3 separate regions of the Homo sapiens genome follow, and all the other regions are linked to region 1. The links come from fine-mapping of genetic effects on gene expression. A gene starts in region 1. Each other region holds a variant in brackets. All regions are shown on one strand. Distances are between the middles of the regions.

The links. PIP is the estimated chance that this variant, and not a neighbour inherited with it, causes the effect. A credible set is the group of variants that fine-mapping cannot tell apart.
Region 2: its variant is the best candidate, but not a certain one, in a credible set for the expression of COLEC11 in gastroesophageal junction (GTEx, PIP 0.60).
Region 3: its variant is the best candidate, but not a certain one, in a credible set for the expression of COLEC11 in ovary (GTEx, PIP 0.71).

The regions. Positions count from the first base shown.
Region 1 is chr2:3,589,170-3,599,562 of GRCh38, forward strand. It overlaps COLEC11 (collectin subfamily member 11), which reads left to right and starts at 5,943. Exons shown (of 7, transcript NM_024027.5): 1 at 5,943-5,999.
Region 2 is chr2:3,610,922-3,621,398 of GRCh38, forward strand. It overlaps COLEC11 (collectin subfamily member 11), which reads left to right. Exons shown (of 7, transcript NM_024027.5): 3 at 2,390-2,461. It also overlaps the pseudogene TMSB4XP2. Among named protein-coding and RNA genes, the nearest start is that of COLEC11, 21 kb to the left of the region's middle. RefSeq lists an enhancer at 4,154-4,658. The variant C/T (reference allele first, on the strand shown) is at 5,530.
Region 3 is chr2:3,622,444-3,632,920 of GRCh38, forward strand. The region is part of intron 3 of COLEC11 (collectin subfamily member 11); the gene reads left to right. Among named protein-coding and RNA genes, the nearest start is that of ALLC, 31 kb to the right of the region's middle. RefSeq lists enhancers at 1,961-2,180, 2,211-2,450, 5,084-5,795. The variant G/A (reference allele first, on the strand shown) is at 4,428.

The DNA of each region.
Region 1 (10,393 bases):
TTTTAGTAGCGATGGGGCTTCACCATGTTGGCCAGGATGGCCTCGATCTCTTGACCTCGTGATCCGCCCGCCTCAGCCTCCCAGAGTGCTGGGACCACGGGCCTGAGCCACCACACCCAGCTGGCTGCACCATTTCACATTGCCCCCTGTTTCCCCTCATGCCAGCATTTGGTGTTGGGATTTTGTTTTAGCCACCTTGATAGACAAGTCGTGATAGTTCACTGTGGGTTTTGTTTGCATTTCTCTAATGGCTAATGGCGTTGAACATCTTTTCATGTGCTTATTTGCCGACTGTATATCCTCTTTAGTGAAATGTCTCTTCATGTTTTTGCCCATTTGCTACTTGGGCAGTTTGTTATTTTCCTGTTAAGTTCGGAGAGTTCTTTCTATATTCCCGACACTCTCCTTTGCTGGATTTGTGGCTGACAGATGCTTCCTCCCATCCTGTAGCTTGTCTTTGCATTTTCTTCACGGGGTCTTCTGCAGAGCAAAAGGTTTTAATTTTGGTGAAGTTCCATTGATCAGTTATTGCTCTTATAGATTGTACTTTGATGTTAGAATATCAAAGAATGATTTGCCTAGCCTTAGATCCTGAAGATTTTTCTTCCATTTTTTCTAAAAGTTTTGTAAGTTTACATTTTACATTGAAGCCCATGATCTATTTTGAGATAGTTTTTGTATGAGGTGTGGGGCTTATATTGGGGTTCATCTTTTTTGCCTATGGACGTCCTGTTGCTCCACACCGTTCATGGCACATGCTGTCTTCCCTCCACTGAATCGCTTTTGTACTTTTGTGAGAAAGCAGTTGAGTGTATCGGTGTAGATCTAGTTTCGGGTTCTCTGTTCTGTTCCATTGTATAATGTCTTAGAATTGGGTAGATTGATTCCTCCTATTTTATTCTTTTTTTTTTTTCTTTTTTTTTTTTTTTCTTTTTTTTTTTTATTTTTTATTTTTTATTTTTATTTTTTATTGATCATTCTTGGGTGTTTCTCGCAGAGGGGGATTTGGCAGGGTCATAGGACAATAGTGGAGGGAAGGTCAGCAGATAAACAAGTGAACAAAGGTCTCTGGTTTTCCTAGGCAGAGGACCCTGCGGCCTTCCGCAGTGTTTGTGTCCCTGGGTACTTAAGATTAGGGAGTGGTGATGACTCTTAACGAGCATGCTGCCTTCAAGCAGGGCAGAGGGGTTCCTCACTTCCCAGTAGGGGCGGCCGGGCAGAGGCGCCCCTCACCTCCCGGACGGGGCGGCTGGCCAGGCGGGGGGCTGATCCCCCCACCTCCCTCCCGGACGGGGCGGCTGGTCGGGCGGGGGGCTGACCCCCCCCACCTCCCTCCCGGACGGGGCGGCTGGCCGGGCGGGGGGCTGACCCCCCCACCTCCCTCCCGGACGGGGCGGCTGGCCGGGCAGAGGGGCTCCTCACTTCCCAGTAGGGGCGGCCGGGCAGAGGCGCCCCTCACCTCCCGGACGGGGCGGCTGGCCAGGCGGGGGGCTGACCCCCCCCACCTCCCTCCCGGACGGGGCGGCTGGCCAGGTGGGGGGCTGACCCCCCACCTCCCTCCCGGATGGGGCGGCTGGCCAGGCGGGGGGCTGACCCCCCCACCTCCCTCCCGGACGGGGCGGCTGGCCGAGCGGGGGGCTGATCCCCCCACCTCCCTCCCGGACTGGGCGGCTGGCCGGGCGGGGGGCTGACCCCCCCACCTCCCTCCCGGACGGGGCGGCTGGCCGGGCGGGGGGCTGATCCCCCCACCTCCCTCCCGGACTGGGCGGCTGGCCGGGCGGGGGGCTGACCCCCCCACCTCCCTCCCGGACGGGGCGGCTGGCTGGGCAGAGGGGTCCTCACTTCCCAGTAGGGGCGGCGGGGCAGAGGCGCCCCTCACCTCCCGGACGGGGCGGCCGGCCGGGCGGGGGGCTGACCCCCCCACCTCCCTCCCGGACGGGGCGGCTGGCCGGGCAGGGGGCTGACCCCCCCTCCCCCCTCCCGGACGGGGCGGCTGGCCGGGCAGAGGGGCTCCTCACTTCCCAGTAGGGGCGGCCGGGCAGAGGCGCCCCTCACCTCCCGGACTGGGCGGCTGGCCGGGCGGGGGGCTGACCCCCCCACCTCCCTCCTGGACGGGGCGACTGGCCAGGCAGAGGGGCTCCTCACTTCCCAGTAGGGGCGGCCGGGCAGAGGAGCCCCTCACCTCCCGGATGGGGCGGCTGGCCGGGCGGGGGGCTGACCCCCCCCACCTCCCTCCCGGACGGGGTGGCTGCCGGGCGGAGACGCTCCTCACTTCCCAGACGGGGTGGCTGCCGGACGGAGGGGCTCCTCACTTCTCAGACGGGGCGGTTGCCAGGCAGAGGGTTTCCTCACTTCTCAGACGGGGCGGCCGGGCAGAGACGCTCCTCACCTCCCAGATAGGGTTGCGGCCAGCAGAGGCGCTCCTCACATCCCAGACAGGGCGGCGGGGCAGAGGTGCTCCCCACATCTCAGACGATGGGCGGCCGGGCAGAGACGCTCCTCACTTCCTAGATGGGAAGGCGGCGGGGAAGAGGCGCTCCTCGCTTCCTAGATGGGATGGCGGCCGGGCAGAGACGCTCCTCACTTTCCAGACTGGGCAGCCAGGCAGAGAGGCTCCTCATATCCCAGACGATGGGTGGCCAAGCAGAGACGCTCCTCACTTCCCAGACGGGGTGGCGGCTGGGCAGAGGCTGCAATCTCGGCACTTTGGGGGGCCAAGGCAGGCGGCTGGGAGGTGGAGGCTGTAGCGAGCCGAGATCACGCCACTGCACTCCAGCCTGGGCACCACTGAGCACTGAGTGAACGAGACTCCGTCCGCAATCCCGGCACCCCGGGAGGCCGAGGCTGGCGGATCACTCGCGGCTAGGAGCTGGAGACCAGCCCGGCCAACACAGCAAAACCCCGTCTCCACCAAAAAAAAAAACGAAAACCAGTGAGGCGTGGCGGCGTGCGCCTGCAATCGCAGGCACTCAGCAGGCTGAGGCAGGAGAATCAGGCAGGGAGGCTGCAGTGAGCCGAGATGGCAGCAGCACCGTCCAGCCTTGGCTCGGCATCAGAGGGAGACCGTGGAAGGAGACCATGGAGGGAGACGGAGACGGGGACGGGGACGGGGACGGGGACGGGGACGGGGACGGGGACGGAGACGGAGACGGAGACGGAGACGGAGAGCTGATTCCTCCTATTTTATTCTTTTTCAAAATTGTTTTAGCTATTCTAGTTCCTTTCTCTTTTCATATACACTTTAGAATAGCCGTGTCTATATCTACAAAAATTATTGTTATGATTTTGATAGAAATTGTGTTAAGCTTGTACTGTATATTAACTTGGGGGAGAATCAACATTTTTACTCTGTTGAGTCTCCCAATCTATACTTTTTAATTTTCATTTTATTATTTTTGAAACAGGGTCCCACTCTGTCACCCAGGCTGGGGTGCAGTGGTGCGATCTCAGCTAACTGCAACATCCACCTCCCGGGCTCAAGTGATCCTTCCACCTCAGCCTCCTGAGTAGCTGGGACCATTCTACTATGCCCGGCTAATTTTTGTATTGTTTTTGTTAGAGACAGGGTTTCACCATGTTGCCCAAGCTGGTCTTGAACTCTTGGACTCAAGTGATCCTCCCACTTCAGCCCTGCAAAATGCTGGGATTACAGGCATGAGCCACTGTGCTTGGGGTGAGTCTCCTAATCTATGAAGACGACGTGTTTCTCTGTTTATTCAGATCTTTTTTGAGGTTTTCAGCAGCATTTTGTAGTTTTCAGCATGTAAGTTCTATATATGTTTTGTTAGATTTACACCTAAGTATTCCTTTTTTAAAGCAATTGTAAATGATATTATTTTGAATTTTGGTGTCTATGAGTTCATTGTTATTTTATAGAAATCTGCTTGGTTTTTCATTGTTTATTATTTTTTTGAGACAGAGTCTCGCTCTGTCACCCAGGCTGGAGTGCAATGGCACAACCTCAACTCACTGCACCCTCTGCCTCCCGGAGTCAAGTGATTCTCCTGCGTCAGCCTCCCGAGTAGCTGGGATTGCAGGCATGTACCACCATGCCTGGCTGATTTTTGTATTTTTAGTAGAGATGGGGTTTTGCCTTGTTGGCCAGGCTGGTCTCTAACTCCTGACCTCAGGTGATCCTCCCACCTTGGCCTCCCGAAGTGCTGGGATTACAGGTGTGAGCCACCACGCCTGGCCTACTTGGTTTTTTAAATGTTTGCCTTGTATCCTGTCACCTGTCACACTGATTTAATAGTTTCCAGGAGCTCTTTTGTAGACTCTGGGATTTTCTAAGTAGACAACCATGTCATCTGCAACAAGGGACAGAGTTATTTTATTTTTCGAATCTACATGCTGTTTATTTCCTTTTCGGGCCCTGCTGGTGTGCCTAGAACTTTAGCACTGCATTGAGTAAGAGGTAAGAGTGGACACCCTTGCCTTGTCTTGATCTCAGGAAGGAAACATTCCATTTTTGCCCATGAAGTATGATGTTAGCTGTGGCTTTGCCTTTGACAGATGCTCTTTATCAAGTTGAGGAAGGTCCCCTGCACCTATTTTTCTGAGAGTTTTTATCATGAAAGGTGTTGGTTTATGCCAAATGCTGTTTCTATATAAATTGAGATATTCATTTGATTTTCTTTGTTAGCTTGTTAATGGGTTTTTATCAAAGGAGCTTTGAATATTGACATAGCCTCACATTCCTGGATGAAACCCCATTTGGTCATAGTTGATAAATCTTTTTCTATATTGCTGAATTCTGTCTGTTAATATTTTATTAAGGATTTTCTCATCTATATTCATGAGGGTTATTGGTCTATAGTGTTTTTGTTCTGTCTTTGTCTGGTTTTGGTATCAGGGTAATAATCAACTTTATAAAATGAATTGGTAAATATTCCCTCCTCTTCTATTTTCTGGAAGAGGATGTGTAGAATTGGTGTTAATTTTTCTTTAAACGTTTTGTAGACCCTCCTGTGAAACCATCTGGCCCTGAAATGTCTTTCTGGGGAGCGTTTAAATTGCAAGTTCAATTCCCTTCCTTGGCATAGGGCTGTTGAATTATCTGTTTCATGCTGGGCATGTTGTAGTTCGTGTTTTCAAGAAGTGGTTCATTTTGTCTAAGTTGTCAAATTTATGTATAACTTCAATAATACGTTTTAAATAAAGAATCCATTATTTTTCCTTAATTTTATTATGTGTGTGGAATTTGTGTTTTTACAGTTTTATTTTATGATTTCTCAGTCTAAATAAATATTCACCTTTGAACCTAGCTTCTTATGATTGTAATTTTATATGTATCTTTTTCTTAAAGAAGGTTCCGCTATCCCCCAAAACATGCAAGATTCGGGCTGCATAGAAGCTGGATCTGTCCAGCCCCTGACTAACATTTGTTTCTGGCATTAAATGAAACTTGCCTTTAAATGAAACTTAAATGCGTAGAGTGAGTTTCCGGACTCACGTGTGGCCAGGTCTCCACAGGCCGTGGTCAAGCTCTTGCTGACTTTTGAAGCGAAATCCCATATGAACAAAGGAAAGGAGATCAGTCAGCTGCCCTCGTTTCTGTCTGATTGGTGCCAGGTGATGAGCGTCCCTCCTCTTTATGCTCTTTTGAATTTCCACAGTAGTCATGCTTATTTTTTCAAAAAACGAAAAGAAAGAAGAGAAAGCCAAAAAAGAAACAAAATTGGGATGTTCGGGTTGGAGAGTTAGCAGGGGCATCTCCAGGAGGGTCCTGCCCCCCACCCCAAAGCCGGCCTCAGGGAGTTCCAGGCGTTCCCACACTCCCCAGGCAGGACGGTGGACGCAGCGCAGACAGGAAGCTCCCCGAGATAACGCTGCGGCCGGGCGGCCTGATTTGCTGGGCTGTCTGATGGCCCGGGCCGAGGCTTCTCCCTGCGCCTGGGACTGCGGCCGCCTCTCTAAATAGCAGCCATGAGGCGCCTGGGGGCAGTGTCCTCGCGGGCCAGCGACGGGCAGGACGCCCCGTTCGCCTAGCGCGTGCTCAGGTAGGAGACTCTGCCCGGGGCTGCAGCTGAGGGTTTCACGGGGCTATGACAGTGCAGAGGGGAGGCAGGCAGGCTTCCAAACTGGGCGCGAGGTGGGCTCCTGCTGAGCGAGGAGGATGGGAATCTGTCCCTAGATCCAGGCAAAAGATTGAGTCTCAATAAATCTGGCACCAGAGTTCCAAAGTTTGATTAGTTCATGGCGGAAATTCGTGGAGCCTATTGATGAGATGGGATCCGACCCATGAGAGGTGCTGGATGATGGAGTCACCCTCTTGGGTGGCAGATTTCAAACAGCCCAAGGCCCAGGGGGCTAAACAGTCTTCGCTAATTCCAAACCGCAGTGCAGTACCTGGTCTCACAACCTGACGATTGTTCCTGAGCCTGAGCAGCGTCTGACGGGCCAGGCGGACAGCAGCCACGACTGCCCCCAGGGACCAGTGGCTCTGTGTTGGGCTCAGGAACGGGGATCAGAGAGGTGGGGGAAAGGTGGGCCTTGCTTTGGCAACTTTCCAGGGAAAGACTTTGAGTTCAGATGGGGTCATCTAAAACCAAGTGGGGTCATCTTGTCTCCAAAATTGGAAAGGAGGAAAGTTTCCTAGGGCCGCTGCCTCCTACCTGGATGCCTTGCGCTAGGAACTGGCGGTCTTTTTAGAGCTGAGGTGATGTGGTCGTTCTCAATTTAAAGATGAACGTTTAAAGCCATCTCATGTGCATAGCTGGAATTTTGGTTTGATGGGAAGCACTTTGCCTGTGGTAGGCAGAGCACTGCCCCAATCTTTCACAGCTATTCGATTTTGTTTACAATTTTGAAAAATCCATGTACCGTAGAAGAGAGCACACCGGTAATGTGCTGACCGCTGGGGGAAGATAAGAGAGGATAGGTGCCTTCTTACTCTGTGCTCTTGGTAAGAAGCTAAGAGGAGCGTGTGCTGTTGTGGGTGGAATCCAGGCTGCCCCAGAAGGTGCTCTGTCACTGTAGGGAGGGAAACACCGCGGTGGGGCTGGGGCAGTCCCCAGTGAGAGGAACCTCCTCATGCTTCAGGGATGTGGTTCTTAGGAGGTATTTGTGGTGCCTGTAAGATGCTGGGCCTTGCTGTAGATACTTAATGAAAAAGTAGAATAGCATGTTTGGCAACTGAAGCCATGATTTTTTCTCATTGTCTATTTCATTTTTTTTTTTTTTTTTGAGATGGACTCTGGCTCTGTCACCCAGGCTGGAGTGCAATGGCACCGTCTTGGCTCACTGCAACCTCCGCCTCCCAGGTTCAAGCGATTATCCTGCCTCAGCTTCCTGAGTAGCTGGGATTACAGGTGTGCATCATGGCACCTGGCTAATTTTTGTACTTTTTAGTGGAGAGGGGGGTTTCACCATGTTGGCCAGGCTGCTCTCGAACTCCTAACCAGGTGATCTGCCCACCTTGGCCTCCCAAAATGCTAGGATTATAGGCATGAGCCACTGGGCCTGGCCCCATTGTTTATTTCATTCATAACATGTATTTCCTCTCAGGATTCCACGTTTAACCCCCTCTCCCCTGCTTGTCAAGTCTGCCCCTTCCATTGATGGGAGGGCCCTGAGCGTCTTGGGCCCTGGCTGGGAGATAAGGATGTTGTTCTTAAAGAGGTCCTGGGGGTAGCTGTGGCTTCTCCGTTTACAAAATGGAATTCCTCTTCTAAGAAGGCAGTCAGAGGGCGAGACCTCTGGGAAGCAGAGACTCCTTCGGGCGCCTGGGTGCCCTCACCCTGTGCCTACCTGCCCTGGTTCCTGCTGTGCGTCTGAGAGCGCCCCGCTGCAGGGCCTGTGCCTCCTTTGTGCCCATAGGCCTAGCTGGGGCCCCTCGCAGGAAAGTGGACAGAAACTCTGTGAATGGGCAGCGGGGTCAGTGAATGAGTGGAGCGAGTGAAGGCATGAGAAATCCCAGCCTGGGCTGTTCCGGGGATCAGTGGATGAGTGAAGTGAGGGAAGGCACAAGAAATCCCAGCCTGTGCTGCTCCGGGGTCAGTGAATGAATGGAGTGAAGGCACAAGAAATCCCGGCCTGGGCTGCTCCGGGGTCAGTGAATGAATGGAGTGAAGGCACGAGAAATCCCAGCCTGGGCTGCTCCGGGATCAGCAGATGAGTGTGAGTGAAGGCACGAGAAATCCCACCTGGGCTGCTCTGGTGTCAGTGAATGAATGGAGTGAAGGCATGAGAAATCCCACCTGGGCTGCTCCGGGGTCAGCGGATGAATGGAGTGAAGGCACGAGAAATCCCGCCTGGGCTGCTCTGGGATCAGCAGATGAGTGTGAGTGAAGGCACGAGAAATCCTGCCTGGGCTGCTCTGGGTTTCTCTGCTCACTACTCACCCCTTTTCTTGGGAGACGGAGCCTGATCTTTGTTGAAGCCACTCCTGGGACATCTGCGGAGTGAGGGCAGTAAAAGCCTTGCTGAACACCTGGTTATACCTGAACAGAATCACTTCTAGCTAGAGGGGAAATTCCCATGTCAGCCTTTGATTCCTGAGACATTAAAAAAAAAAAAAACTAAACCCAGTTTGCATCCAGCAAACACTGAGAAGTGAGGTTCGACTTGCGTACTGAGTGGGTGGGGAGGAAGAGTTTACTATTGCTTTCAGAAGCCACATACCACAAGGAGCCAAAATACTGCTGCTGAGGCAGGAGCCGGGGAGACTACGGTTATGAGCCCAGTGGACCAGCACGTCTGGCTACAAACCTTGTGGTGCCCCTTGTTTTGACATTATTTTTGTATTTTTTATTTTTATTTTATTTTATTTATTTCATTTTTTTGAGACTGAGTCTCACTCTTATCACTCAGGCTAGAGGGCAGTGGTGTGATCTCGACTCACTGCAACCTCCACCTCCCGGGTTCAAGCGATTCTCCTGCCTCAGCCTCCCGAGTCACTGGAATTCCAGGCACCCGCCACCATGCCCAGCTAATTTTTGTATTTTTAGTAGAGACAGGGTTTCACCATGTTGGCCAGGCTGGTCTCGAACTCCTGACCTCAGGTGATCCACCCACCTCGGCCTCCCAAAGTGGTGGGATTACAAACGTGAGCCACTGTGCTTGGCCCATTTCAACATTATTAGGAATTTCAGGACAATGACAGCAGGGCAGTAACCCACGTCTGCAGACTGCCTGCCCTGGAAATACTGTGTAGACATTAGATATAATAAAGATTTGGAAACACGGAAACACCACGAGGAGAAGAGCAGAAGGCTCTATTTGCGATGCAATTGTGAACTTTCGTTCTGTTGTTTGTTCCTTTATTTACTCATTCACTTGTTCACTCAGTTTGGTGCCTGCTAAACTGCAGGCTTCTGCGTGCCCAGAGACCTTTACGAAGCTGTAGCTTGCACAGATCACTTGCATGTGGACCCAAGCCTGGCAGCGAACAAGGAAGGTGGGAGGAGTGAAGTCAGCTGGTGGGGTCCTGGGTTTCCGCTTTTCGGTTGCCCTTATTGTTCTAATATCCGCGTGAGCACAGGGGAGAAGGGTGTGGGCACAGGCAGCGGGTGAGGGGTGTGGAGAGGAGGCTGGAGGCGGACCGTGGGTGAGGGGTGTGGAGAGGAGGCTGGAGGCGGGCCGTGGGTGCGGGGTGTGGAGAGGAGGCTGCAGGCGGAGTGCCCAGCTGCGTGGCCTGGTGGTGGAGTTGGGGCCGATTGTTCAACTTTCCATATTGCATTGTCTTTAGAGTGAGGAACTGTAATAAGGTACAAGGTTGTTTTGGGAATTAAATCAGATATGTGTCCACATTTGGTATACAACGTATATTGGCTCCTTGTTCTCTCCATCAAAAACCTATTTTTAAAAATCCCTTACATCGTGACTGAAGGAGGAAGGTGAGCCCTTCCTTTGATGCATGGGGAGAGGGTAGTCGGGCAGAAAGAGGAAACAGCCAACAGTGCTGGGAAGCCCTGGATTTCAGTCCCACCCTCACCACACACTGGTTACGCAATGCTGGGAAGCGTTCTTAATTTTTCTTTTCTTTGGCTTCCTCATCTGTGACGAGTGCGTGATGGTGCTGATCTCTGTGCAGTGTATGGGAGTTATTTTCCTCCAACCCAGTGGACGTTCTGTACCCCTGTCCTTTACAAAGTCATTTCTGTAAGGGGCTCTGCAGGAAGAAGCCAGGTCCTCATCTGGTGCGCGATGACCCACACCACAGGACGGCACTGAATGGAAACGGGTTTCCCTGTACCCATTCTGCGGGAGAATTGACTGACGCAGAGGCACTGTGCGGGGGACAGGCATTCTCAGATGAGGAACCCTGGCTTCTAGCCCTTTCCCTGGACTGGGAGCCCATGCATGTGATCACAGTAGGATCAGGAGCTGCCATTTGGTGAGCATTTGCTATGTGCCACACTGGGTCACGGTGCCACACGCATTAATTACCGCT
Region 2 (10,477 bases), 22 kb after region 1:
TTTTCCCTCCTGGGTAGCTGACAGCATTTTCTCTTTATTCTTGGTGTTCTGTGATGTTGCTCTGACATGTCTGAGTTACTTTTCTCTGATTTTCCCCGTGTGGTTCTCCGCAGGCCCTTTCACAGAGTTCTTTCATGGCTTTCCTTAGCACTGGGAAATCGCAGCTACTAAATCTTCGCAGCCACGAAGGCTTTGTTCCTCTCTTTCCGGAATTGCTGTCAGAGCGACATTGGCATTTGTGAGTTTTTCCTTCAACTCTCAACTTCGTAACTTCAAAACAAACAAACAAAGCCTGCATTTCTTATTAGTGCTGCCCTGTGAACAATGCTTCCTCCTCACCGCTGGCTCCACGAGGCCTCTTCATCCTGGGTCACCGGGGACTCGCCTTTCTGCGGAGTGGCTCCCGCACAGCGTCTCTGCTCGGCTCTTTCCGCTGCAGTGTGCTGTTGTTCCCGGACTGGCCTCTCCCATGTTATGAGGACCTCCATTCACCGATTGCACAGTCAGCGTCCGGCTGCTCCACTGTTCCGTCTTCTCTGTTCTTTCTTCTGCACGATGCTGGTGCCCCTGAAACCTCTGGGGATTCTTAATGCTGAGTTTATCTTGTTAGTGGATATTTCTTGCTAAACTGTCAATACTTCTCTTTTCTTCTTACAAGATAAGAAAGCAAACTTGAGAACTACTTGGAGCCTCAGAGCAGCATGTGGGTGTTGATCGTGGGTCAGCCCAGGGGCAGCCCACAGGCTTTTCAGTAGGTGGCCCTGCGGGGCTGGGGCTGTGGCACGGGGGTGATGTGGGGATGGGCCTGCCACCATCGCTGTGCTTTTCTCTTTGTTACTTGGATTTAAATGGAAAGTCCCCTCCGTGAGGCCAGATAATCAGCTTTGGGGATTTTGTGGAGGGATCTGTAATCTCAACTGAGCCTCTCTCCAAGACAAGGTGTGTGGGCCACAACGTGTGTGGGCGGCAAGCCGTCCAGGTGCCGAGGCAAGAGACCGAGGGCACGAGCTGGTCCAGTATGATAAAATATATAAAACAACAAGAGTTATACTCTATATGCTCTCTCTATATATAGGGTTGTTTTGTATATTTTATCATACTGGAACAGCTCGTGCCCTCGGTCTCTTGCCTCGGCACCTGGATGGCTGGCTGCCCACAAAGGTGCAAATGGAGAGTTATAGAGAAGTAAAGTTTACGTGAACGCTGGCACAATTGTGCAGAGAGGGAAGGTGAACTTGTAGCATATCAGCGCACACACGCGCACACATACACGTGCACACCTATGCACATGCGGACACACGCACACACATGCACCCACGCACCCACGCACACGCATGCACACATGCACACACATGCACACACACTCCCTGTCTGCAACCATTCAGAGGAGGGATAGTGCAACAGGTAAGAAATACGGCCTTATAAAAATGACTACAGAGCCGAGTCCCAGCCAGCAGAGTGGCCCTGTTGAGAGAATCCGGAAGAGCCTCCCGGAGAACCAGGTGAGAAGGCGGACCCTGGACAGGAGCCGGCTGACCAGGCAGGCTGGGCAGAGGGCACAGAGTAGGGAAAGACCGGGGTCCGATGTAGAGACCACACTGAGGAGAGGCTCAAGTACTGCACGTCATTTATAGCTGAATCTAGAGACATAATAGAATTCCATTTGTTTCAGGACAGTCATTTTGGTGTGGATTAGAGTGGGGGGAGAAGACTGGAGTGGAGGTGTTGGTGTCCACAGGCCTTCCTGAGGCCCCTGGCCTCACTGCGCACATCTCTGAACTGTGCCTTGTAGGGTGTCTCCACCAGTGATTCACCCTCTGTCTCCTGCACCTGCTGAGCCTTGGAAGTGGGTGGACGTGCCCACCTGGTCACAGGCAGCCCCCGTGGTGGAGGCCCTGGCTGAGCAGGAGCCTGTGCCCTGGGGGGCTCACACTGATGGGGCCAGTGGGATGCTGACATAGTTCATCCTTCCCTGAGTACCAAGCAGATGAAGCTCAGGGAGAGGTCGGGGTGACGCTTCCCATGGGGGCGCCTGGAGACGCTGCCGCCCTTCTCATTGGTGTTAGGGTTGGGGAGAGCCGGCGTTTAGACGCGGCACTGTGCACCCAGGGACAGACTAGGAGCCCGCCAAGAGGGGTAACTGGTGAGAGAAACACAGGCCCTTTCTAAGAGAGAAGGTAGGGCAGGGAGACAAATAGCCCTAAAAGCAGAATCAGGGGCACCCAGAGTAGCGGCTGGGCTGCAGGCGGGGAGGGAGGTAGGGAGAGAAGGGGCTTGGCCACCTGCAGGGACCCGGGGAGAACGCTTCTAACTGTTCTTCCTCCACAAATCACTCTGAGACGCTGTGCTGGCCAGACGAGCTGCTAAATGGATGTGACTTCTTCCACAGGGGATGCGGGAGAGAAGGGAGACAAAGGCGCCCCCGGACGGCCTGGAAGAGTCGGCCCCACGGGAGAAAAAGGTACCTGCAGCCCTGGGCCGGCCCTCAGAGCTCTGAGGATGGAGGCACCGCTCCTGCTAGAGCCGGGTGGGGAGGTGGGGGTGGTGGTTCCAGAGAGGACAGGCCCTGCCCTCTGGGTCCCAGGGAGGCAGACGGCATGGGACTTGGGTCGGGAGCAGGGAGGGGAGAGTGGTCCTTCAGCACTGCTCCTTGTGCTGACCTGTGGGGCTCTAGGAAAGAAAGTGTGTCCTGGAACTCAGCAGAGGCTCCTGGCCCCTTTAAGCCTCATCTGTAAGACGGGAATAACAGCTTCCAGATCATTTGTGAGCGCTAAGTGAATCAGTGTCGTTATGAAGGCGGCGTGGCAGAGTACACAGATAGGACCCTCATCACTTTGCGTCTGTCTCCTCCTTCGTAAAGTCGTGTGATTCTGCCTGCCTCGTGGGACTGTGCCGAGGCTCATGGGAGCTAGATCATACGTGTAAAGGAAATGTATCATGTGTAAAGTAGCTGCACAGTGCATGGCAGGGGTTAAATATATGGTGGCTATTATCTTTATATACTCCTTGTTACTGCTTAAAATTTTTTTAAGTGTTTTTTCTTTTTCTTTCTTTCTTTCTTTTTTTTTTTTTTGAGACTGAGTCTTGCTCTGTTGCCCAGGCTGGAGTGCAGTGGCACAGTCTTGGCTCACTGTAACCTTCTCCTCCCAGGTTCAAGCTATTCTCCTGCCTCAACCTGTTGAGTAGCTGGCATGTGCTATCACACCCAGCTAATTTTTTTTTGGGGGGTATTTTTAGTAGAGACTAGGTTTCACCATGTTGGCCAGGCTGGTCTCGAACTCCTGGCCTCAAGTAATACATTTTTTCCAAGTCATTAAAGATTGTCTCTAGAAATGCTTTCTCAGTATGTACACATCATTCTATGAGAACATATACTACAGTTAGCCAACCCCCCAACCAATCTTTTAACATTGGAGAGTTAAGTTGTTTCCAATTAAAAAAAATTATTATAACAACACAAAGATAATTAAATATATATTTAAGCCCATACGCTGTTTTTTGAAACGTTTTTGAGGTATAATTTATGGTCATTCTCATTTTGAGATTACCGTGCAATCAGTTTTGACCATTGCCCTCGCCCGTACCCCTCATCCTAAGCAAGAGCTGGAACATTCTTTTTTTTTCTTTTTTTTAAATCAGCTTTCCATTTATTAAGTTTAGAGAGGAACAATTCTAAGTAAAGCTTTAAAAAATCTTCAACACAGATATTTTTTATAGGCAATACAGAAGGACAGGATGACCAATAAGGGTGCTCAGAGTAAAACTCCTAAAGTTGCACAAGTTGTAGAAGAAAATTTCTTATAATGAAAGGACATGAGTATCTAGATTGAACAGAACTACCAGAAACCTGGCAAAGTAAACGAAAAAAAGTTTCATACCAAGACAACTGACTTTGAAATTTCAGAACACAAAGATAAAAACAAAATCCAAAATTTTCCAGACACTAAATATCACATACAAAGAATTAGGAATCCGAATAACATCAGTCTTCCCAATATTAGCAGTTGAAGAAAGAACAGTACCTTTAAAATCCTGAGGGAAACTTATTTCCATTCAAGAATTCTACACCCAGCTAAACTATCCATCAAGGCTGAGAGCAGAATAAAATATTTTCATGTATTTCAGTTCACAACAATGTACCTCATATGCACCCTTTCTCAGGAATCCACTGAGAAATATTTTCTTTCTTTTTTTTTTAAAGGGATTTTATTTATTTATTTATTTATTTTTAGTATTTATTGATCACTCTTGGGTATTTCTCGCAGAGGGGGATTTGGCAGGGTCATAGGACAACAGTGGAGGGAAGGTCAGCAGACAAACAAGTGAACAAGGGTCTCTGGTTTTCCTAGGCAGAGGACCCTGCGGCCATCCGCAGTGTTTGTGTCCCTGGGTACTTGAGATTAGGGAGTGGTGATGACTCTTAACGAGCATGCTGCCTTCAAGCATCTGTTTAACAAAGCACATCTTGCACCGCCCTTAATCCATTTAACCCTGAGTGGACACAGCACATGTTTCAGAGAGCAGGGGGTTGGGGGTAAGGTCAAAGATTAACAGCATCCCAAGGCAGAAGAATTTTTCTTAGTACAGAACAAAATGGAGTCTCCCATGTCTACTTCTTTCTACACAGACACAGCAAGAATCTGATTTCTCTATCCTTTCCCCACATTTCCCCCTTTTCTATTTGACAAAACCGCCATCGTCATCATGGCCCATTCTCAATGAGCTGTGGGGTACACCTCCCAGACGGGGTGGCGGCCGGGCAGAGGGGCTCCTCACTTCCCAGAAGGGGGCGGCTGGGCAGAGGCGCCCCCCACCTCGCGGACAGGGCGGTGGCCGGGCAGAGGCTCCCCCCACCTCCCAGATGGGGCGGCTGGCCAGGCAGGGGCTGCCCCCCACCTCCCTCCCGGACGCGGCGGCTGGCCGGGCAGGGGCTGCCCCCCACCTCCCTCCCGGACGCGGCGGCTGGCCGGGCGGGGGCTGCCCCCCACCTCCCTCCCGGACGGGGGGGCTGCCGGGTGGAGATGCTCCTCACTTCCCAGACGGGGCGGCTGCTGGGTGGAGGGGCTCCTCACTTCTCAGACGGGGCGGCTGCCCGGCGGAGGGGCTCCTCACCTCTGAGGCGGGGCGGCCGGGCAGAGACGCTCCTCACCTCCCAGACGGGGTGGCGGTCGGGCAGAGACACTCCTCAGATACCACACGGGGTCGTGGCTGGGCAGAGGCGCTCCTCACATCCCAGACAGGGCGGCGGGGCAGAGGCGCTCCCCACATCTCAGACGATGGGCGGCCGGGCAGAGACGCTCCTCACTTCCCAGACAGGATGGCGGCCGGGAAGAGGCGCTCCTCACTTCCCAGACTGGGCAGCCGGGCAGAGGGGCTCCTCACATCCGAGACTATGGGCGGCCAGGCAGAGACACTCCTCACTTCCCAGACGGGGTGGCGGCCGGGCAGAGGCTGCAATCTCGGCACTTTGGGAGGCCAAGGCAGGCGGCTGGGAGGTGGAGGTTGTAGCAAGCCGAGATCACGCCACTG[C/T]ACTCCAGCCTGGGCAACATTGAGCACTGAGTGAACGAGACTCCGTCTGCAATCCGGGCACCTCGGGAGGCCGAGGCTGGCAGATCACTCCCGGTTAGGAGCTGGAGACCAGCCCGGCCAACACAGCGAAACCCCGTCTCCACCAAAAAAATACGAAAACCAGTCAGGCATGGCGGCGCACGCCTGCAATCCCAGGCACTCTGCAGGCTGAGGCAGGAGAACCAGGCAGGGAGGTTGCAGTGAGCCGAGATGGCAGCAGTACAGTCCAGCTTCGGCTCAGCATCAAGAGGGAGATCGTGGAAAGAGAGGGAGAGGGAGACCGTGGGGAGAGGGAGAGGGAGACCGTGGGGAGAGGGAGAGGGAGACTGTGGGGAGAGGGAGAGGACTGGAACATTCTTATTTCACTTAGCGTAATGCCCTCCAGGTTCATCCAGGTCACAAATGCTGGGATTTTCTTATATTTCAAGACTGAATAATATTCCGTTATATATGTGCCATGTTTTCTTTATCCACTGATTGGTCAACAGACGCGTAGGTTGTTTTTATGTGATGGCTGTTGTGAATAATGCTGCAGTCAGCATGAAACTGTAGGGATCTCTTCAAGATCCGATTTCATTCCTTTGGCTATGGACCCAGTAGTGACATTGTTGGATCATGTGGTAGTTCTGCTTTTGATTTTTTCTTTTCTTTTTTTTTTTTAAGTTTTTAAACTTTTTATTTGCATATTTAAAAAATTGTGCATTCCAATAATTAAAATCATTTGACAAAAAGAAAAAAATGGCTCTCTGATTAAACTGCATTACAGCCTGCAGGACACCTTGGGCCAGCTTGGTTTTATTCTAGATTTCACTGTCATCCCACCCCACCTCTTCCTTCACCAACATGCAAGTTCTTTCCTTCCCTGCCAGCCAGCCAGACAGATGGGAGAGACAGGCGCGGCCTTCGTTGTCCGTAGTTCTTTGATGTGAAAGGGGCAGCACAGTCATTTAAACTTGATCCAATCTCTTTGCATCTTACAAAGCTAAACAGCTAAAAGAAGTAAAATAAGAAGGCAATGCTTGTGGAATATACAGTGCATATTGGCGGCGCACGCCTCACTACGATTTGCCTGCTTGCTTCTCCTGTTCAGTCGTTTCTTTGGAAGGCAGTGGATTTTTCTCTTGAGTCTCTGTCTTCTTCAGTTTCGACTTATCGAATTTCTCGATCTCAGCCATATCGGGTTTGTCAGACATGGTTGTGGAGGAAAAGCGGAGCGAGGCGTGCGAGAACGAGAGAAGTCTGGTCTGCGCAGTGGCCACCACTGAGTTGTCGCTTTTGATTTTTTCAAGGAGCCTCTGTACTGTTTTCCATTCCCACCAGCAATGTCTAAGGGCTCGCCTTTCTCCACATCTTCTCCAATGCTTAATCTCTTTTGACTTTTTGATACCAGCCATCCTAACAGGTGTGAGGTAATGTCTCATTGTGGCTTTAGTTTCTATTTTCTTGATAATTGATGATGTTGACCACCTTTCCATAAACCTGTTGGACATTTGTATGTCTTCTTAGAAAAATATCTATTCAGATTCTTTGCCCATTTTTAAATTGGGTTATTTGTTTTTCGGCTATTGAGTTGTATGAATTCCTTACATATTTTGGATATTAACCTCTTATCAGATATATGGTTTGCAAATACTGTCTTCCATTCCATAGGTACCTTTCTGTTTTGTTGATTGCTTTCTTTGCTATGCAGAAACTTGTTAGTTGGATAGGTTAGTACCACTTATTTATTTTTGCTTTTGTTGCATGTGCTTTTGGGGTCATATCCCAAAAAATCATTGCCAAGACCAATGTCAAGGAACTTTTCCCTTACATTTTCTTTTAGGAGTTCTGTGATTTCAGGTATTACATTTAAGTCTTCTATTTTGAGCTGATTTTTATGTATGGTATAAGACAAGGATTCAGTTTTGTTTTTTTGCATGTGAATATTCAGTTTTCCCAATAGCATTGTGAATTCTTTGTGCCTTTGTTGAAGGTTAGTTGACTGTATATGCACTCATGGGCTTATTTCTGTGCTTTCTTCTCTGCTCTATTGTCTATGTGTCTGTTTTTATGCCAGTGCTTGTTTGAGCAAGTATACTGGTTTGATTACCATCTATCTGTAATATAATTTGAAATCAGGAAGTGTGATGCCTTCAGCTTTGTTTTTCTTGCTTAAGGCTGCTTTGGCTATACATGACCTTTTATGGTTTTACATGAATTTTAGGATTTTTTTTTCCATTTCTCTGAAAAGTGCCTTTGGAATTTTGATAGAGATTGCACTGAATCTGTAGATTGCATTGGGTAGTATGGACATTTTGAAATATTAATTCTTTTGATCCACGAACAGATATTTTTTCCATTTATTTGTGTCTTCAATGTTTCATAGTTCTCAGTGTACAGGTACACAACACTTCCTTGGTTAAATTTATTCCTAAATATGTCATTCTGTTTGGTGCTACAGTCAAGGAGATTGTTTCCTTAATTTTTTTCAGGTGGCTCATTGTTAGTGTATAGAAATGCTGCTGATTTTCGTGTGTTGATTTTGTATCCTGCAACTTTACTGAATTTGTTTATTAGTGCTAACCAGTTTTTAGTGGAGTCTTTAGGGTTTTATTTATATAAGATTATGCCATCTGCAAACAGAGCCAGCTTTACCTCTCCCTTTCCAATTTGGATGGATCCCTCCCTCCTTCTTTCCCGCCTCCCTCCCTCCCTCTCCCTTTCTCTTCCTTTCTTTCTCTCTTTCCTTTTCTTTCCTTTCCCCTTTCCTTTTCTCTCCTTTCCACTTTCCTTTTTTCTTTCTTGCCTAATTGTTCTGGCTAGGACTTCCAGCACTATATTGAATACAAGAGGCGAGAATGGGCATCCTTGCCTTGTTTCTGATTTTAGAGTAAAGCTTTCAGCTTTTCACCAGTGAGTATGATGTTAGCTGTGGACTTCTCATACATGGCCTTTATTGTGTTGAGGTGCATTCTTTGTATATGTGCTTTCTTGAGAGCTTTTATCATGAAACAACACTGAGTTTTGTCAAACGTTCTTTCAGCATCTACTGATGATAATATGATGTTTATTCTTCATTCTGTTAATGTGGCATATCACATTTATTGATTTCTGTATGTTGAACCATCCCAGGCATAAATTTTGCTTGATCATGGTGTATAATACTTTTGTTTTTGAGACGGAGTCTTGCTCTGTTGCCCAGGCTGGAGTGCAATGGCATGATCTCGGCTCACTGCAACCTCCGCCTCCTGAGTTCAACCGATTCTCCTGCCTCAGCCGCCCAAGTAGCTGGGATTACAGGCACGCACCACCACGCTCAGCAAATTTTTGTATTTTTAGTAGAGATGAGGTTTCACCATGTTGGCCAGGCTGGTCTTGAAATCCTGACCTCAGGTGATCCACCTGCCTTGGCCTCCCAAAGTGCTGGGATTACAAGCATGAGCCACCGCTCCCGGCCGTGTATAATCTTTTTAATGTGCTGTTAAATTTGGTTTGCTAGCATTGTGTTGAAGATTTTTGCATCTGTGTTCATCAGGGATATTGGCCTGTAATCTTTTTTTCTTGTATTGTTCTTGTCTGGCTTTGGTATCAGGGTAATGCTGGCTTTTAAAAATTAGTTCAGAAGTATTCTCTCCTCTTCAATTTTTTGTAAGATTTTAGAAGGATTGGTATTAATTCCTATTTAAATTTTTGGTAAAGTTTGGCATGAGGCTACCAGGTCCTGGGCCTTTCTTCGATTGGAGATTTTTGACTACAGAATCAGTCTCATTACAGATCTGTTCAAATTTAGTATTTTTTCATTATTCAGTCTTTGTGGGTTGTATGTTTCTAGGAATTTATCCATTTCTTCTAGGTTATTCAAATTTTTGATGTATAATTATTCGTATTACTCTCTTATGACCCTTCATATTTCTGTGGTATCAGTTGTAATTTCTCCATTGCATTTCTGATTTTATTTGAGTTACCTCTTTTTTCTTCGTCTAGCTAAAGGTTCGTCAATTTTTTTTTTTGCCTTTTCAAAAAGCAACTCTTAGTTTTGTCGCTTTGCTACAGCTTTTCTAGTCTCTCTTTGATTATTTCTGCTCTGATCTTCGTTATTTCCTTACTTCTGCTAACTTTGGGCTTCATTTGCTTGTTTTTTTCTAGTCCCTTATGGTGTAAAGTTAGATTGTTTATTTGTAATCTTTATTTTCCCTCCATGTAGGTATTTATTGTTATAAAATTTCCTCTTAGAATATCTTTTTGCTGTAGCCCATAAGTTTTTGTATGTTGTGTTTTCATTTTCATTTGTTTCAAGATATTTTTTGATTTCTTTTTTGACTCATGGATTGTTCAGGAATGTGTTGTTTAATTTTCTCGTATTTGTGAATTTTCGTTTTCCTCCTCTTGCTGATTCCTAGTTTTATCCTGTTGTGGTTAGAAGAGACGCTTGATATGATTTCAGTCTCCTTGAATTTGTTAAGACTTGTTTTGTGGCCTAACGTATGAGCTATCTCAAAGAATGTTCCGTGTGCACTGGAGAGGAATGTGTTTTCTGCTGCTGTTGGATGGAATGTTCTCTGTTAGCTCCATTCGGTCTAAAGTGTAGTTTATGTACAATGTTTTCTTACTGATTTTCTGTCTGGGTGATCTTTCCATTGTTGAAAGTGAGGTATTGAAGTCCCCTACTATTAGTGTATTCTATCTGTTTGCCCTTCAGATCTGTTAATATTTGCTTTACATATTTAGGTGCTCCAATGTTGAATGTGTGTATATTTGTAATGATTATGTTTTCTTGATGAATTGACCTTTTATCATTATATAAAAACCCTTTTTTACTCTTGGCTACAGTTTTTGACATAGTCTATTTTGTCTGATATAAAATAAATATAGCTACGCCTATTCTGTTTTGGTTTCAATTTGTGTGGAATATCTTTTTCCATCCCTTCAT
Region 3 (10,477 bases), 33 kb after region 1:
GAGTATTCTGAATTTGACTATTGCTATCATTTGAATGTTTGCCCCCTCCAAAACTCACGTTGAAACTTGATCTTTAATGTAATAGTATTGAGAGAGTGGGCCTTTAGGAGGTGACTGGATCATGAGTTCTCTGACATTATGAATGGATTGATCCATTTATGAGTTAATAGATTAATGGGTTATTACAGGAGTGGGTTAGTTATCATGAGAGTGGGACTATTATAAAAGCCAGGTGGCCTCTCTCGTGGGCCTCCTTACTGTGTGATGCCCTGTGCTACCTCAAGACTCTGTGGAGAGTTCTCATCAGATGTGGCCTCTTGACCTTGGATTTCCCAGCCTCTAGAACTGTAAAAAAGAATTTCTTTTCTTTATAAATTACCCAGTCACAGATATTCAGTAATGGCAACAGAAAACAGACTAAGGCAAGTATATAGTTTTATCAGTTATCTCTACACTTTTAAATGTTTTCATGTTACTAATTAGCATCCTTTTGTTTCAGCTTGAAGAACTTTCCTTTACATTTCTTGTAAGGGAAGTCTAGTGGGAACTTCTTTAGCTTTTGTGTATCTGGGAGACTCTTAATGTTTCCTTTATTTTTGAAGGATGGCTTTGTGAGTACATAATCTTATTGCCAGTTTTTTTCTTTCAGTACTTTGAATATATGATCCCACTTTCTCCTGGCCTGCAAGTTTTCTGCTGAGAAGTCTGCTGATAGCCTTATGAGGGTTCTCTTGGATGTGATGAGTTTCTTTTCTCTTTCTGCTTTCAAAATTCTCTTCTCGTCTTTGATTTATGGTAGTTTGATTATAATGTATCTTGGTGAAGTTTTCTGTGGGTTGAACCTATTTGGAGACTTTAAGCTTCATGTACCTTGATGTCCACATCACTCCCAAGTTTGGAAAGTTTTTTAGGCATTAATTCTTTAAATAAGCTTTCTATTAGCTTCTCTCTATATTCTCCTAATACAACTTCCATAATGTGAATGTTAGCTTTCTTGATGGTGTCCTTTAGATCTCACAGGCTTTCTTAATTTCTTTTAATGCCTTTTTTCTTTTCTCTTCTCTGATTGAATATTTTTAAATGACCTGTCATCAAGCTCACATATTCTTTCTTTTCTTTTGTTTGATCAATTCTGCTCTTGATGCTGTCTGCTGTATTTTAAATTTTATTCATTCTGTTCTTCAGCTTTAGAGTTTCTGTTTGGTTCTTTTTTTAAAAAAAAATCTCTATCTCTTCATTGAATTCCTCATTTTTAATGTATTGTTTTTCTGATTTTGTTGAGTTGTGTGTCTATGTTCTCTTGTATCTCATTGAGCTTCCTTAAAATGATTATTTTGAGTTCTTTGTTAGGCAATTTGTAGATCTCCATTTCTTTGGGATTGGTTTACTAGAGTATTATTGTGTTCCTTTGGTAATGTCATGTTTCCTTGATACTTTATATTCCTTGAAGTCTTGCATTGCTGTTTTCTCATTTGCAAAAGCAGTCACCTCCTCTAGTCTTTATGGACTTTTTTTGGGAGAGAGATTTCTTTACAAAACAGCCTGGCTAGGGATTCTGAGGCTCTCTCAGACCATTTCTGTGGATGCACCTGCTCCACACCTTTTGCTTCTCTTGGAGAGGGGTGAATTTTTAAAGAGTATATGCCTTTTCTTGATCCCACAAAGGCAGTCTAGGTGCTACTAGCCTCTCATTAGTTTCCCCTAGGGCAGTGCTCTGAAATGCTCAAGTTCTTGTGCCTTCTCCCTCCCCATCCCACACAGTCAAGCTATCTGTCTGTGTGAGATGCTGGCACTTGCCATCTGTGGGGGTGCCTTTGGGGAGCTGGCAGAGTGTTGGGTGAAGCATGTGAGCATTTGGGTGCCCGTGGTCCAGTTGGGATGGTTCACAGGAAAGGCGTCTCCATCAGCTTGTTGGGGGGCTTCCTAATAAAATCTGCAGAGCAATTATTAGGGTCCATAGCCTTTCTTCCTAGCTCCCAGTCTCTCCCAACTTCTCCTCCATGTCAGTCACCTCAGTATTGGAGGTGAGACAAGAAAGAAGCAGACTTTTTTTGGGCAGCATCCTGCATGGCTGGGGGAGCTGGAAGCTCACTTACTACACTTTCACTTACTCCAGTGGGAAAAAACATGGGCCAAGGGGGTTTCCCTGGGCACTGAGCTGTGTTGCTCAGCTCACAGTTGCTCAGCTTACAGTTGTGGGAAACGGTCACACGGGTAAAGTGAAACTGTTCTTACCCTCATCAGTGCATCTATTCTTGGATTTTTTTCTCTAACAGTGTGCTGGAACTTCTCCACTGGACTTCCAGACTCCTACAAAGACACTTTTGTTCATGGGGAGTTGTCAACATGGAAGCTTCTTTGGGGGGACTATGGTAGAAAGCTCCTCTTCTGCCATCCTCCTAACATCACCCATGTGTGCATGTCTTGTCTTCCTAATTAGATTATACATTCCTCAAGGGTAGGGATTTGTGGATCACACTCTGCCATCCTGCGAGTAAGTGGTTCCAAGTCCCTGATATAGTAGTTATTCCTAAGTATTAGATTGATAGATTTACAGAGGGTCATTAAACATACATTGACTACCCCAGAGATATGGGGTTAAAGTCTGATAGACTCTTTTCATTTCTACCTCTTAAAGAATCTTAATCAAAGGATCCACAAACACAATGGTTTGCTGATCCAAGGCGGCAAGGATTCTCTATTAAAACCTCTGAGGAATTCCCTTCTCCCTCCCTCCTTTCTTCCTTCCTTCTCCCACTTAGAAGTGGCAGCAGGCTTTTTCAGGCTCCGAGGCCTGTCCCCACTGATGTTCAGGTGTAGGTCAGGCTTCCATGCTCAAGCAGGCCTCAGGTCCCTGCTGAGGGGTGGGCACGGATGGAGGGTGAGCCTGAGGCAGGATGTGCAGGACAGCGACTGCTGAGACAGCGTTCTTGGCTGCCTTGTGGTGGGTGGGGGGCCATGGACCCAGCCCAGGGCGGGGGTTAGGGAAGGCACTCGGGAGGCTACTCGTAATTCAGGGTTTCTGAAATCTGGAGACAGGGAGGGCTAGGAGTCCATAAAGGGATGTGGCATTTGGCATCCCAGGGAGTCAGCTTAGGGGAGGGGCGTTTAGCACTCAGGGGTCTACTCTGTGCCTCAGCTTGGACCCATGAGTTTGGAAAGTTTCTTTTCTTCTTTTTTACTTTTTTTTTTTTTTTTTTTGAGACAGAGTCTCACTCTCGCTCTGTTGTCAAGGCTGGAGTACAGTGGCATAATCTTGGCTCACTACAACCTCTGCCTCCCGGGTTCAAGTGATTCTCCTGCCTCAGCCTCCTGAGTATCTGGGATTACAGGCGCCCACCACCACGCCCGGCTAATTTTTGTATTTTTAGTGGAGACGGGGTTTCACCACATTGGCCACACTGGTCTTGAACTCCTGACCTCAAGAGATCCGCCTACCTTGGCCTCCCAAAGTGCCGGGATTATAGGCATGAGCCGCCATACCTGGCAGACTTTGCAAAGTTATTTAACATCTCTATTATCTGAGTTGTCAGGCAGGGATAGTCATAACATTGTATTTACTTTTTCCAGCAGTCACAGCCAGTCGTGACAGCTTCTGACATCTCCAAAAGGAAGTGCACCTCGTCCTTTGTAGAAATGGGATCACAGGGTAATGGATCTGGAAATCCCACCTTCACACTTAAGTTGGACCCTGAGATGCAGAGAATAGGCAACCACTCTTCCCATGGCCACATGGCTTGGACAGAACTGGAGCAGAAGCCCCATTTCTAGATGGACGTGGTTTGCTGGGAGGGAGGAATATTGTTAGGCACAATGCGGTCCCAGCCTCAGCTGAGCAGTGCAGAGACCACAGACGTGGAACCAGACAGTCCTGGGCTCGCTGGGCCTGTCTGTATCGTGGCTCCACCACCTGTCAGTTATGTCAGCTTCTGGAATCAGCTTCGTCTTCCCAAGCCCCCTTTTTCTGTACCTGTAAAATGGGGGGTGGGGGGTGGGGATCTACCTCCCATGACTCCCAGAAGGGTTAAATGGAAGGATAGACGCACAATGTCTTGGATGCGGCAGTTGCCTGGTGCCTGGTGGCCTGGTGGTTGCTGTTATTATTCTCCGTTTGCACAGAAGAAAGTCTGAGCCCTGGTGCTTTTGTTCATGGGAACTCACTAGGGAATGAGCATGACTTCCGGCCTCTGCAATAACCAACTGACATTCTTTCTGATAATCGTGGCTGTTTCCGTCAGCTGTAAGTGCTCTGTTCTGGATAATGTTTATTCTCAAGGACATTAGGTCAAAGAGAGAATGGAATATGTTTACAAGGACATTAGGTCAAAGAGAGAATGGAATAAACTTAGGACTTTTTATACACAACCTGGGATGAATCTCCTCCCTGAGACCTAGGACACCCTGGGCGCTCTGCCTGTGTGGTAGGC[G/A]GTGCCCGGGCCCCAGGGGGCGCAGATGGGCTGGGAACCAGGACCTCAGCCGCCACCACCCTCCACACCCTCCCTGGAGTCTCACTTTCCAGTGGGACACAGCCCTGCCAACTCCCCTGGCCCACTGGCTCTTCTGCCCGTGGGCTTGCTAGCTGGGTGCTAGTGGATAGCTTTCTAGCTCGTTGCAGCGGGGGCACAGTGGCAGTTCCCTGATGACCGGTCACGAACATCTGTGGCTTCCATGGCATTATGCTGTGGAGACTCACCTGGAGAAAAACAGTGACCTCTGCGGGAACTTGGGGGCCAAGACTTCCTGGTTTCTAGGGTCCTGGGAACCACTGCAGTCCTGGGCAAACTGGGGGCTGCAACTCAACTTCGCCTGGGCATGATGACGCTGGTCACGATGCTGTGCATGACGACACTGGGCACGATGATGGGGGGCATGATGACGGGGGGCATGACGATGGGGTGGATCTGGGCATGATGATGCTGGGCAAGATGATGGCATGGTGATGCTGGGCACAACGCTGGGCACGACGATGGGCACAACGATGAGCATGATGGGGTGGATCTGGGCACAATGACACTGGGCATGATGATGGAGGGCACGATGAGCACGACGATGGGGTGGATCTGGGCATAATAACGGTAGATCGGGGCATGATGATGCTGGGCATGACACTGGGCATGATGACGGTCTGCATCTGGGCATGATGGCTCTGGGCACAACGATGCTGGGCATGAAGATGGGACACGATGATGGGGTGGATCTGGGCATAATGACTCTGGGCACGATGACGCTGAGCACAGTGACGCTGGGCACGATGACGGTGGATCTAGGTATGACGATGCTGGGCATGATGATGGTAGATCTAGGTATGACGATGCTGGGCATGACAACAGCGTGAATCTGGGCACGACGATGCTGGGCACAATGCTGCACACGATGATGCTGGGCATAACACTGGGCGTGATGACAAAGTGGGTCTCAGCACCTGTCCCAGTGCTTCTTGAAGGGGCTCCTGAAGGGGAGGAGCATCCCTGGGAAGAGCGGGACCTGGGTGTGACAGCCCTGCTCCCATGCCAGCCCTGCTGTTGCCCAGCCTGTGGCCACTCCAAACCATTGTTTTCAACTTCTGACATCAAAATCACAGCCTTCACAGGGCGTTGCTGCCATGAGTGGGCCTGGGGTCTGCAGATCCGCTCTCATCCTTGCGTCTTCAGGTCCTAGCATGAGACCTGACGTTTGGAAGGCCCTCCATCCACTGTTGGAAAAATATCCTGAGGTTTCATATCTTCAAATACCTCTGCAATCTGTGGGTGATCCCAGTCTATGGCCAAGGGCCCCCCATCTGTGTCATCCTCCCTTCCCCAGGTGAAGCGGCTGCCCCGCAGGGTTCTAGAGAGCTGGTCTGTGGGACGAGGCTTCCGGCCATGCTGGGCGGGGGCTGTGTTCTCTGCCTATCTATGGAGGTGGGGCTCTGCTTCAGGTTTCTCCAGGGGCTCTCATTTAAATGCAGCTGCTGGCCCAGGAGGGCGGCCTGAGACCCTGCACTGGTCTTAACAGCACCCAGGTGCTGCTGCTGCCAGCCTGGGCTGTCCCCATTGGTGGGGGTCCAGATGCCTCTGCTTCCGCAAAGTGCATGCTCTGCACATGGGGACCTGGCTGCAGTGGGGGCTGCCCTGAACAGGCTGGCTGGGTGTGCGCTGGGGCTTTGAGGGAGTGTCCTGTTGGGAAAGTGAGACCCCCCACCCCCCATTCGAGGAGGTGGTGCGGTTGGATGGCCTATTCTGAGATAAAAAGCCAGGCCATGGCCCAGAGAAAGCCCAGCTGTTAAAAATCACCGAGGAAGCTGAATTTCAAATGCTCTTTTTGCCTCTTCTCCACTTCAGAGGACTGTGTGAAGTGTTCATTAAAATTAATAAGAACTCCACACCTGCTTTGAGCTGCCCTCAATCCTCATGCGTGTCCAGAGGACAGATGGGAGGCGCAGCACTGCTCACAATGGTGATGAGATGTGGGATGGGCTGTGGCGTTCGTGCCCAGTGTGCCGGGTGCCACAGCCAGAAGCTCCTATGGCAGAGAGGGAAGGGATCCAGGGGCATCAGGTGCTGCATTCCTGTTGTCGCACGCAGCCAGCGGGAGGGGGCGTTGCTTGCCTCTTGCAAAAAGCTTTCTGTCACTTGGAGGTGCACGAGGCCTTGGGAGAGGGAAAAAGGCGTTAGGGCTCTTGTTCTCATCTGCTGTCCTTAGAGAACCTCTGGATCTGTAACCACACTACTGTCCGGCCAAGGGTTAGTTTCCAAGAGAAGTCTTCAAGTTGAAATAAGTCAGCTACAGAAAAGGTTGTGGTATGAAGTAGAGAATGTGTTGACAATCTCAGTGGATTTCAACGGTTCTCACCTTTTCTTCTTCCTCCAAACACCCCAAAATAGAATATTTCTGTCAGAAACAACAGCTCACACCAATAGGTCCCAGTGTGTGTGGCTGGTATGTGGAGGTTGGGGTGTAGTGAGGGTCTCCTGGGTGCTTCTGGGGTTCTCAGTTTAAGCCTAGGTGCTGACCAACTGTACAAGCTTGAGCTGTGTGAGGATAAAAGTAGGCTTATGTACATGCACTCATGCACACACGTGCACATAGATGTATGTGCATGTATAGTTGTATGTATGGATACATACCTATATGTATATATGTGCATGCATGTGTGCATATGTATATGTACCTGTGTGTATGTGCATATGAGCATTTGTGTGTATGTGCATATAGCGTGTGTGTGAATAGTATGTATGTGTATGTGTGCTCCTGTAGTATGCATGGGTATGTCATGTGAGTATGCCTTTGTCTATGTATGTGCTGCTGGATGCCCTGTTTTGAGATAACAAAGCCAGGCCACGGGTCCAGAGAAAGCCCAGCTGTTAAAAATCACTGAGGAAACTGAATTCCAAGTGCTCTTACATATGTATGTATATGTTTGTATTCATGTATGTATGTTTGTGTACACATGTATCCACGTATGTAGGTTTGTAAGTTTTATGTATGTGTATATGGGCATGTTTATATGTACATATATACGATGTGCAGTTACATGCTATGTGTGGTTGTATTTATACATAAATGCATGAATGTGTGCATGCATCATGCATATGTGTATGTATGTGTGTTTTTATGTGTGCATATGTTACGTGTTTGCATATTGCATATCTGTTAATATGTGTATGTTTGCATGCACATGTATGTATGTGGAGGTGAATGCACATCTCTATGTGTATATGCATGTGCATGTGTGTATGTATGCATATAGATGTCTGTGCATGCATATGTGTATAGTATGTATGTGTGCATATGTATGTGTATGCATATCAGGGTAGTACGTATGTGTATGTGTACATGCATGTATGTGTGTATAGTATATGTGCATATGTCTGTATATAATGTGTGAGGGGACTTCAAAAAGTTTGTGGAAAAGTGGAATTAAAAAATAAAAATACAAATATAAACTTTATTTCTCAATATAAGCACCATGAAGTTCAAGACACTTTTGTAAGTAATTACACCAGCCATTTAGTCCATCCCTAAAGAACTGAGGGTTCCTCATGGTGAAATTCCCAGGAATTCCCATGTGGTCTTTTTTACATTGTTTACTGAAGAAAAATGAGTGCCCTTTACAGATTTTTTAAGATGAGGAAACAAGAAGTCAGAAAGAGCCAAACTGGGAAAGTTGGATGCTTAATGATTTCCAATAGAAACTCTTGCAAAATTGTCCTTGTTTTATAAGGAGAATGAGCAGGAGCATTGTTGGGGTGAGAAGGGCTCTGGTGAAGCTTCCTGGGCATTTTTCTGCTAAGGCTTTGGCCAACTTTCTCAAAACCCTCTGATAGTAGGTACATGTTATTCTTCTTTGGTCCTCCACAAAGAGAACAAGCAAAATGCCTTGAGCATCCGAAAAGCCTGTTGCCGTGACCTTCACTCTCGGCCAGTCTGCTTTGCTTTCCTGGACCACTTCCAACTCTTGGTAGCCATTGCTTTGACTGTTTTGTCATTAAGATTGTACTGGTAAAGCCACGTTTCGTCTTCTGTTACAATTTTGAAGAAATGCAATACAATACAGGCCCATAATCTCAGCACTTTGGGAGGCCGAGGTGGGTGGTCAGGAGTTCGAGACCAGCCTGGCTAACATGGTGAAACCCCATCTCTACTAAAAATACAAAAATTAGCCAGACATGGTGGTGCACGCCTGTAATCCCAACTACTCAGGAGACTGAGGCAGGAGAATCACTTGAACCTGGGAGGCAGAGGTTGCAGTGAGCCAAGATTGCACTACTGCACTCCAGCCTGCACGACAGAGCAAGACTCTGTATCAAAAAAAAAAGAAAAAATTAAAAAAAAAGATGCTTAGGCATTCTTCAAAGAATTTTAACAGTAAAGCAAAGCAGACTGGCCGAGAGCGAAGGTCATGGCAACAGGTTTTTTGGATGCTCAAGGCATTTTGCTTGTTCTCTTTGTGGAGGGCCAAAGAACAATAACATCTGCCTACTATCAGGGTGTTTAGACAAAGTTGGCACTGGCTCATCCGGTGGAGGGAGTGTTTCTCCACCCCCAGGCCCAGCTGTGCCCAGTGCTTGGCCCTTCCCCCAAAGGCCTCCCTGCAAGGCTGAGGGGACCGTGGAAAGGGGTCTGGTGGTCCAAGCTATGGGTTTAGGGCAGAAGGGAATAAGGAGGGACGGGAGGGTTTGGGCCACCTGTAGCCACCCTAACTCCCCACCAGCCGGGTATGCTTGGTCACGGCTGACACAGGCGAGAGGGCTCGGAGGGGCCCCTGCTCGGAGGGGGCTCTGCTCGGAGGGGGCCCCTACTCGGAGGGGACTCTGCTCGGAGGGGGCTCTGCTCGGAGGGCTCTGCCTGCTGCTTTGCACACTCTGGTCTCTTGGTCTCTGTCTCCTGCCTCCTGGGCTTGGGAGTAGGGCACTGCTTGTCCTCCCACAGGAACACAATCCTGCGCCATGTGTCCAGCCCCTGGCTCTTAGAAATGCAGGCTTCCCGCAGTTCCTGGCCCGTGGAGGGTGGCTTTGGCTGTACCCGGGGTGGAAGTCTCACAGGCTGGGGCCTACCCACAGTGGGGGTGCAGGGTTTGGAGCCCTGGACGTGGAGTCAGGAGGCCTTGGTCTGAGTGAAATCCACGCCATCAGTGTGCGCTCGCGCTCCTGCTCCTGATGCTCGCTGTGACCCGAGGCACGGAATGCCCTGAGGTGCCACTTGACAGACAGGGAAACTGAGGCTTACAGAGGGCTGTAACTTGTGCAGGGTTTCATGGGTGGAGCACTGAGATTTGGGGCCAGGCCTGTCTGATGGCAGAGGCTGTGCTCGGAATCACGGGGCACTGTGTTCTTTCCTGGCTCACTGTATGACCTGTGGTGGTCACCTGACTCTCTGAACTCCTCTTCTGGAGCAGAGGGCAGTGTCTCTGTCTCTCAATACCACACAGCGGGCAGCTTCCAGGACAGAGATGATTTCCTCCCGGCTGTGGAGGCTGGAAGTCAGGGATCCGGGTGCCGGCAGGGCTGCTGCTCCTGAGGCTGCTGTCCGGGGCTTACAGGCGGTGTCTTCCTGCTGCGTCTCACGCGGCCTTTCCTCCATGCATGCACAATCCCGGCCTCTCTTTCTCTTCGGTAAAGCCACAGTCCTGTTGGACCAGGGCCCACCTGTGTGACCTCTTTAAAGACCCTGCTTCTAGTAGGACTCACACTGGGGTTAGGGCTCCATCGTCAGAATTTTGGAGGATGTAATTCAGCCCTAACAGATGGTGCTGCTAGGGACGTTGTGAAGCTGAAATCAGCGTGTACGTGTGGATGTGGTTTCCTGGCACACAGTCTACCTGGGAGTATTCTAATTTATTTCTGAAAGATGGAAAAATGAGCAGAATCCCGGGACCCCCACTGAGTCCCCACTTGGAGAGGGGCAGCGTCAGAGCACGGGAAAGAAAACCAAAGTCCCAGCCCTAGGAACGTCACCTTCCCATGAAAAAGCACAAACACCACGGGCTGAGGAGCGA